Linked DNA regions of Homo sapiens. The protein of the gene in region 2 purifies or fractionates together with the protein of the main gene of each other region. This does not show direct contact. Each region holds a gene or a part of one and is shown on either strand. Other genes may lie near its edges.

Evidence for each region. The genes of interacting proteins can lie anywhere in the genome.
Region 1: the proteins of TMEM176B (region 2) and LTF purify together in Homo sapiens (affinity purification with mass spectrometry; one large-scale study listed by BioGRID and IntAct). This does not show direct contact.

What each region holds. Positions count from the first base shown.
Region 1 is NC_000003.12:46,451,406-46,454,905, forward strand, and holds part of LTF (lactotransferrin isoform 1 preproprotein), read right to left. Parts: intron 2,956-3,500; coding exon 2,900-2,955; intron 1-2,899. UniProt on the Homo sapiens protein: Transferrins are iron binding transport proteins which can bind two Fe(3+) ions in association with the binding of an anion, usually bicarbonate. Lactoferricin binds to the bacterial surface and is crucial for the bactericidal functions.
Region 2 is NC_000007.14:150,794,083-150,797,364, forward strand, and holds part of TMEM176B (transmembrane protein 176B), read right to left. Parts: intron 2,493-3,282; coding exon of another isoform or gene 2,488-2,492; coding exon 2,284-2,487; intron 1-2,283. UniProt on the Homo sapiens protein: May play a role in the process of maturation of dendritic cells. Required for the development of cerebellar granule cells.

The DNA of each region.
Region 1 (3,500 bases), on a different chromosome or scaffold from region 2:
CCAGTGTATTCCATTAACAAAAGAATGGCTGAACATCAAAAAAACTAAAGTAATCTGCATTTAATGGCAGAAAACCATGAGATCGTCTTCATCTTAATAGATGCAGAACGATTGTTTATGTGTTCAACATCTATTTGTGTGTGGTTTTTTTTTCAGCCTCAGAAAAATAGTAATAGATAGAATCGGTAAAGTTTTTTTGTTTGTTTTGAGACGGAGTCTCACTCTGTTGCCCAGCCTGGAATGCAGTGGTGCGATCTCAGCTCACTGCATCCTCCATCTCCTGGAGTCAAGAGATTCTCTTGCCTCAGCCTCCCAAGTAGCTGGGACCACAAGCGCACGCCACCAGGCCCAGCTAATTTTTGTATTTTTAATAGAGATGGGGTTTCACCATGTTGGCCAGGCTGGTCTCGAACTCCTGACCTCATGTGATCCACCCGCCTCAGTCTCCCAAAGTGCTGGGATTACAGGGGTGAGACACCACGCCTGGCCATAAGTTATTGGCTTGATAAATGCCATTAATCTACAGCAAAAACCTTACTAAAAGAAGAAAATGTAGACATTCACCGCAAAATCAGGAACAAGGCAAGGATGCCCACTGTTACAATGCCAGCACAATTCTAGATATCCAGATCACACAATTTACAAAAGAAATGTGAGATATAAACACTGGAAGGAAAAAGACACACTCTTATTTAAAAAGATGATATCGTCATCTACAAAAAACCAATGAAACCAACAGAAACTAATAAAACTACTCAGAGGAGTAACAAGTTATAAGAGCAACCTACAAAAATCAGATGTTATCCTCATTAACAATAACCAAATAGAAACCAATATGGACTATAAGATGTTACAATAGCAACTAAAACCATTAAGTAGCTAATAATTAGCCTCCCACAAAGACACATCAGACCCACAAAGGAAAAATTTTAGTTCTATCAAAGAAACTAAAAAGAGGTGTGATCAAATGGGGGAGATTTAGCATCACCATGGACTGGACAACTTAATGTTATAAATATGCTGATTTTTCATGGAACAATTTAAATTCAGTACAATTCGAATCAAAATTAAAGTATGATTTTTTCCAGAAATTCAACAAAATAATTCTGAAGTTTTAGCTGAGTATATTTGAAAAGGAATAATAAAGTGAGAGGGGAGAGGGAGCTCTCTCTCATTCTCTCTCTCTTCCTCTCACTGGCTCTCTCTCTTTCTCTCCACCAGATAGTAAGACCCATTGGTAAGCCACAGTAACAAAAGCAGAAAAAATGCAAATACACCAATGAAATAAAATAGCTCAGAAACTGGTCCACTTGGATATATACAAACTTGGTGTAGAATTGGCTTCACATATGGCAGAAAAAATATACTTTTTTTATTGTAAGGTAAATTGCCTCACTGTAAAGGGGATAAAATGCTAAAGCCAAATCTATATCTGACTTTCTAGGTAGAGCACATATAAATAGATGAGGAAGGGGATCTTCAAATCTTATTTTAGGAAATAATTATGATTTGGGTGTGAAGAAGGGCATCTTTGAAATATCTCAAAACTACAAACCAACAAGGTGAGGCTTGTGGATTTGACCTTATCAATATCAAGGATTTTTGATCAACAGAGACTACCGTTGTCAGATTTTTGACTGAGAAGAGGTTTTACTAAAGTTTAAAATCAGCAATAGTTTGATACCTAGATAGAAGGAACTTCTGTCCTTGAATCAAAATCATGCAGAAACAAGGTGTGAAACTCAATTTAAAAAGTAGTCAAATGTCACAAAATAAGAAAGGGAAGCCCAAACGGCTAGCAAATATGTTGAAATGATCAAACTCACCAGCTGTCAGAGAAATGAAAATTAAAAATAAAACGAACTATCTATTGCATTACAACCATCATTCGGACAAAAAGTATGAAAGTCAAAAATACTTCTAACTGAAGTTGTGGGGAAATTAGAACACTTGCAGAGTGTCATTCCAGACAGCAGCTTGGTGATCCTGGGTGCATGTGGGGTCTGTCTCTGGTGGCCCTGGGTGCATGTGGAGGTCTGTTTCTGGTGGCCTCTGATGAATGCGGGGTCTGTCTCTGATGGTCCTAGGTGAATGTGGGTGTTGTCTCTTTCTCTGGTGGTCCTGGGTGGATGTGGGGTGTGTCTCTGATGGTCCTGAGTGAATGTGGGTGTCTGTCACTTTCTCTAGTGGCCCTGGGTGGAATATAGTAGCCCTGTCTCTATTGGTCTTGCATGAAATGTAGTGAGCTTATGTCCACTAGTCCTGGGTGCAGTGTGTTTAGCCTCTACATACTCATCAACTGCTTTATTATAAGTCCAGGAGGGACGCTGTCCAGCACGTAAGTAAGGAACACAGGTGAAGGTATCAGTCGTGTGGCTGCATGTGGTAGAGGAAAAGAGAGCACAACCTCTGTCCATCACTATGGTGACAGAGAAGTAAAAGGTGGATGTATTCCACGGAACACTCCTCAACTGTTAGGACCCCTGAGCTAGACATGTATACAACAATACCGATAAACCTCTAAAACAAAATGCTGAGCAGAAAACCCAAGTAGCAGGATTTCTAATGCTCACTAAAACCTCTATGAACCCAGAAACCGGAAACACAAACCAGCACAATCTGTTCTGCATGAGCACATGTGTCTTGGAGGACTGGAGGACGCATTGCCAAGCACCTAGGCATGGGTGTCTATGAGGGGAAGAGAAAGGCAGTAGGCACAGGAGGTTTGAAGAAAACTGATCATTTAAAATATGAAAGATCATAAAATCAGAGCTGTGCCCTGTAGGAATCTTGAAAATGGTCTGCCATGAACTTAGGAATCTAATTAGCTCAAAGGTCAGAGTCATGATCAAGTAAGATAAAAGGGGTCAGTACCCACGGCTCATTACCCTGCTCTTACCAAACACTGTGCTCTCTCTGATAAAAGCCACGTCTCCAGCCCCGTCTCTCAGACACCTGTGAAAAGAGAAACCATCAGGGGTAAGCACAGGCAGCCCTCCCCAGCCCCTCCCTGTGGAACAGTAGCCCTGGCACTCAGCATCTATGGGTTTCTACTCCCTGCAGGGCAGGGCTCTGAAGCTTTGGGGCATCCCAGCTGGGAAGGTAGGGGCCCCCTCCAGGTAGATACTGAAGAATGACTCAGGTGCTAGCCAGAGGCCCCCATCTTCTGCTTTGAGGGCTAAGAGGACAAAACTTTTTTCTATATAAAGGAGAGTTTTGAAGCCTCTACCCAAGAGGGTAAAGCCTTAGCATCACTGTTCATGTGGCTGTTTTCCTCAGGACTGAGTGTGCAGGTGTGCCCTGGCCAGTGGGGAAGTGTGGAGGCCTCCCTCTGCAAAAATACGCTAGTGCCAGCAGACAGAATGGGAAAAGGGGGAGCTCAGCCTCCGCGTGGGGGCAGAGAGGATGGGGGCGAATCAGGCATTGCTCACTGTCCTTCAGCCACGGGGAGAGGCCCAGGTGGGCAGAAGGACATCAGCCTGGACACTGCAGCGGTCCTG
Region 2 (3,282 bases):
GATGAGAAACCAGACCCCTTCCCGTGAGTCCACATGCCCCGGCTGCCCTGGGACCAGCTGCCTGGCTCCTACCTAGGTGGCTCTCCTCTCCTTTTCCTCTGCCTTGACCTCTCTGCAGCTCTGATTCTGGAAGATTCTGTCCCCTTAAAATCCATGAAGCAGCACTGGCCTGGGTCTCCCCTCACCCTTCTCATAGGCTTGGCTATTTATCCTTCATCAATTTTTCCCAACTTCAACACTTTCTCATCCCACCTGAAGATTCCCACTTTTCCCCCCCCATTCTCCTTCAGAGGTCCCATTGTCCCATCCAAACCCCCAGCCTGACCTGAGCTTCTGGCCTATCCTTTCTCTTCAGATCCAAACACACACTCTTGAGGGCTCTGTGGCAGACACAAAGAAGTGCCGCTGAGACCTCCTTCAAGAAAGGGCTTGTTTGATTGCTGACAGCCTGCAGTTGTCAGCTCCTTCAGGGTCACCCTAATTTTTCAAGCTGAAGACACACACTGAGGAGGGCCCCCCAGCCAATGATTAAGCAAGACAGTGGCTCAAGGGCCATCTCCACCCAGTGTGGAACTCCTGCAGTGGGCAACCTTTGCCTGGGAGCTCCCCCACTGGCCTGGCAGAGTCTGCATTGCAGCCTGATGGTTCCTCCTGCTCAATCCTGCTCCCCCTCTTTTCATTTCATAGGTGTCATACCCCAATAAGCCGTTCACACACCCAACTCCGACTCAGAAGAGAACTCCTCTTCTTCCTGGAAAACCCAACTGTCACCACCTCCACATCCTACCAGCATCTCGGATTTGTCACATCCAAATCCCCTACTACCACACACACACACACACACACACACACACACACACACACACCTCTCGAATGGCTGCTCCTCCTGACTTTCAGGGCTCCGATCTCCTGGTCACCCACACTTCAACCCTCTCTGCATGCTGTGAATGCCTCTCTTTCCTTATGCCCCAAACCCCTTCACTCCCATGCCATGGAGGTCTGTGAAGGACAGGGACTCCTTTGTCTCCTCACCATTTCTGCTATGATTATGTGAGTGCAGATCCTCGATCCTTCTCACCTGGATGCCTCCTGACTCTGAGGCAGGTTCCTGCTCAGAATCCATTGACAGCGTTCTCACTGTCAAAGCTGATTCAGGACAGACTCCTCACCTGGTCGTTCAAGGCTCTCAGCAATATGGGCCCAAATCACCCATTCATGAAGCCCATTCCCTTTACTCTTAACCATTATAGAACTTGCCCTATGCCTTCTGGCCTCTTTGCCTTTGCTCCTGCCATTCTTTAACCTGGAATTCTTTTTTGTCCATCTTCCACCTCTGTCTATACCTATTCCTTCTCCATTCAGGGTTCTCCTGCCCTCAAGGATGTCAGATGTGCTTCTCCCTCACCTGATCTACCTTTAGTTCCAGTCATTAGTGTAGCTGCTGTTCCTTCTGATGGTCACTGAGTACTTTTAGATATAGCCCAGGGATTCTCTCTGTAGCTTGGCCTGAAGTGCTGAACACATTGCCTTGCACCTGTAGGCTTTCAGTCCATGTGGGGTCAATAAAACCGAATTAACAGCCTCTAGACTGTTCTTCCTGTTGCCCTACCTCTGGCTGGGACCGACTCCTCTGTGCCAAAGAGGAGGTCGATTCTTCCTTTCCATCCAAATTTCTGTGGGGACACTTACAACTTTTTCCTACACAGAATGAGATATAAATAGTGATTTCTCATGTCCCTCTCATGGGAATTCAACCCACTTTCCTCTTTTGCATCCTATTGAAGAAGGAGAGTTTCCACTGTGAAAGCTGAGCCTACAAATGGGGTCATTCTTGTCACACTCAACTAAAACAGAGTCGAGAGGCCAGGGGCAAAAAGCACTCGGGGCACAAAATGTTGCTCCCAAAATGTAATTCTCTACAAATCAGGCTGCTGAAGCTGCCTGCTGCAACCTGAAACCAGCTTTATCTACAGCTTCTGACCTTGCTACAACTCTAGGATTAGTTTTACTCATGCCATCGCTCACCCATCAGAGCTCACCAGCTCCCCAAAACCTATGATCTTTCATGAAGGGCAATATGTAACATTTCTCCTTTTTATAAGCCTCTAACCTTCTCTTTGTTCTAAAGACATACTGGAGACCACCTGGTCTGTGTGTATGCCCCAAATTGCAATTCTCTCCTCCCAAATAAAACGTTTTAATTTTGAAGATTTGGCTCTATATTTTAATTGACCTCATCACCTCGTTAACGTGCCCCCCAACCCCGCACCACCCCAGTCTTACCCCTAGAGCCAGCTGCTCATAACCAATCCTGGCTGTGGAAGGCACAGTGTCCCCAGGGTGAAAAAGAAACTTCTTCAGAGAACCTCCAGCTTTCAGCAGTTGTGTCAAAGCTGACTCCTGGTGGATGTGGACGTTGACGTGGGTGGGCTGGGATGGCCTAGAGGCCATAGCAACTCCATTCACAATCACCGTGTTTTGCGTCATCCTGCCTGCCAGGGAGAAGACATATAGCAGTGAGGTCTGGGAACTAGGCGAGGGAAAAATACACAGCACAGGTGAAAGGAGAGAAATAGTGTCTTTGTCAAGATCCCAGCTGGGCACAATAGCTCACGCCTGTAATCCCAGTGCTTTGGGAGGCTGAGGTGGGTGGATTACCTGAGGTCAGGAGTTCAAGACCAGCCTGGCCAATGTGGCAAAACTCCCTCTCTACTAAAAATACAAAAATCCGCACGGTGGTGTGCACCTGTAGTCCCAGCTACTCAGGAGGCTGAGGCAGGAGAATCACTTCAACCTGGGAGGCTGAGGTTGCAGTGAGCTCAGATCTTGCCACTGCACTCCAGCCTGGGCAACAGAGTGAGACTCCATCTCAAAAAAAACAAAAACAAACAAACAAACAAACAAAAAACAGTGTCTTTGTCAAAATTCAAAGGGGCTTCCCAGTGCAGATATCAATGGCACTGGAAATCAATAGTGATTTTACACATAAAAAAGTTAAGAGATACAAAAGGGTATATATACCTTTAAAACCTTATCGCTCATCTTTTTCCCTCAACCACCTATTTGCCTTGCAGATGCAAAGTAATATTATCAGTCTCTTATAAATCCTACCATGACATTTTTGCATACAAAAGTGTGAAAAAGTATTTCTGCCCCCTTTTCCCACAAATAGCAGCATACTATACACACTGATTTGCATGATGCTGTGATCACACGATCATATGTTTTTAGAATAATCCTACATGAGTCCATAAAAAGTGTCAACCTAAATAACAGAGAGAG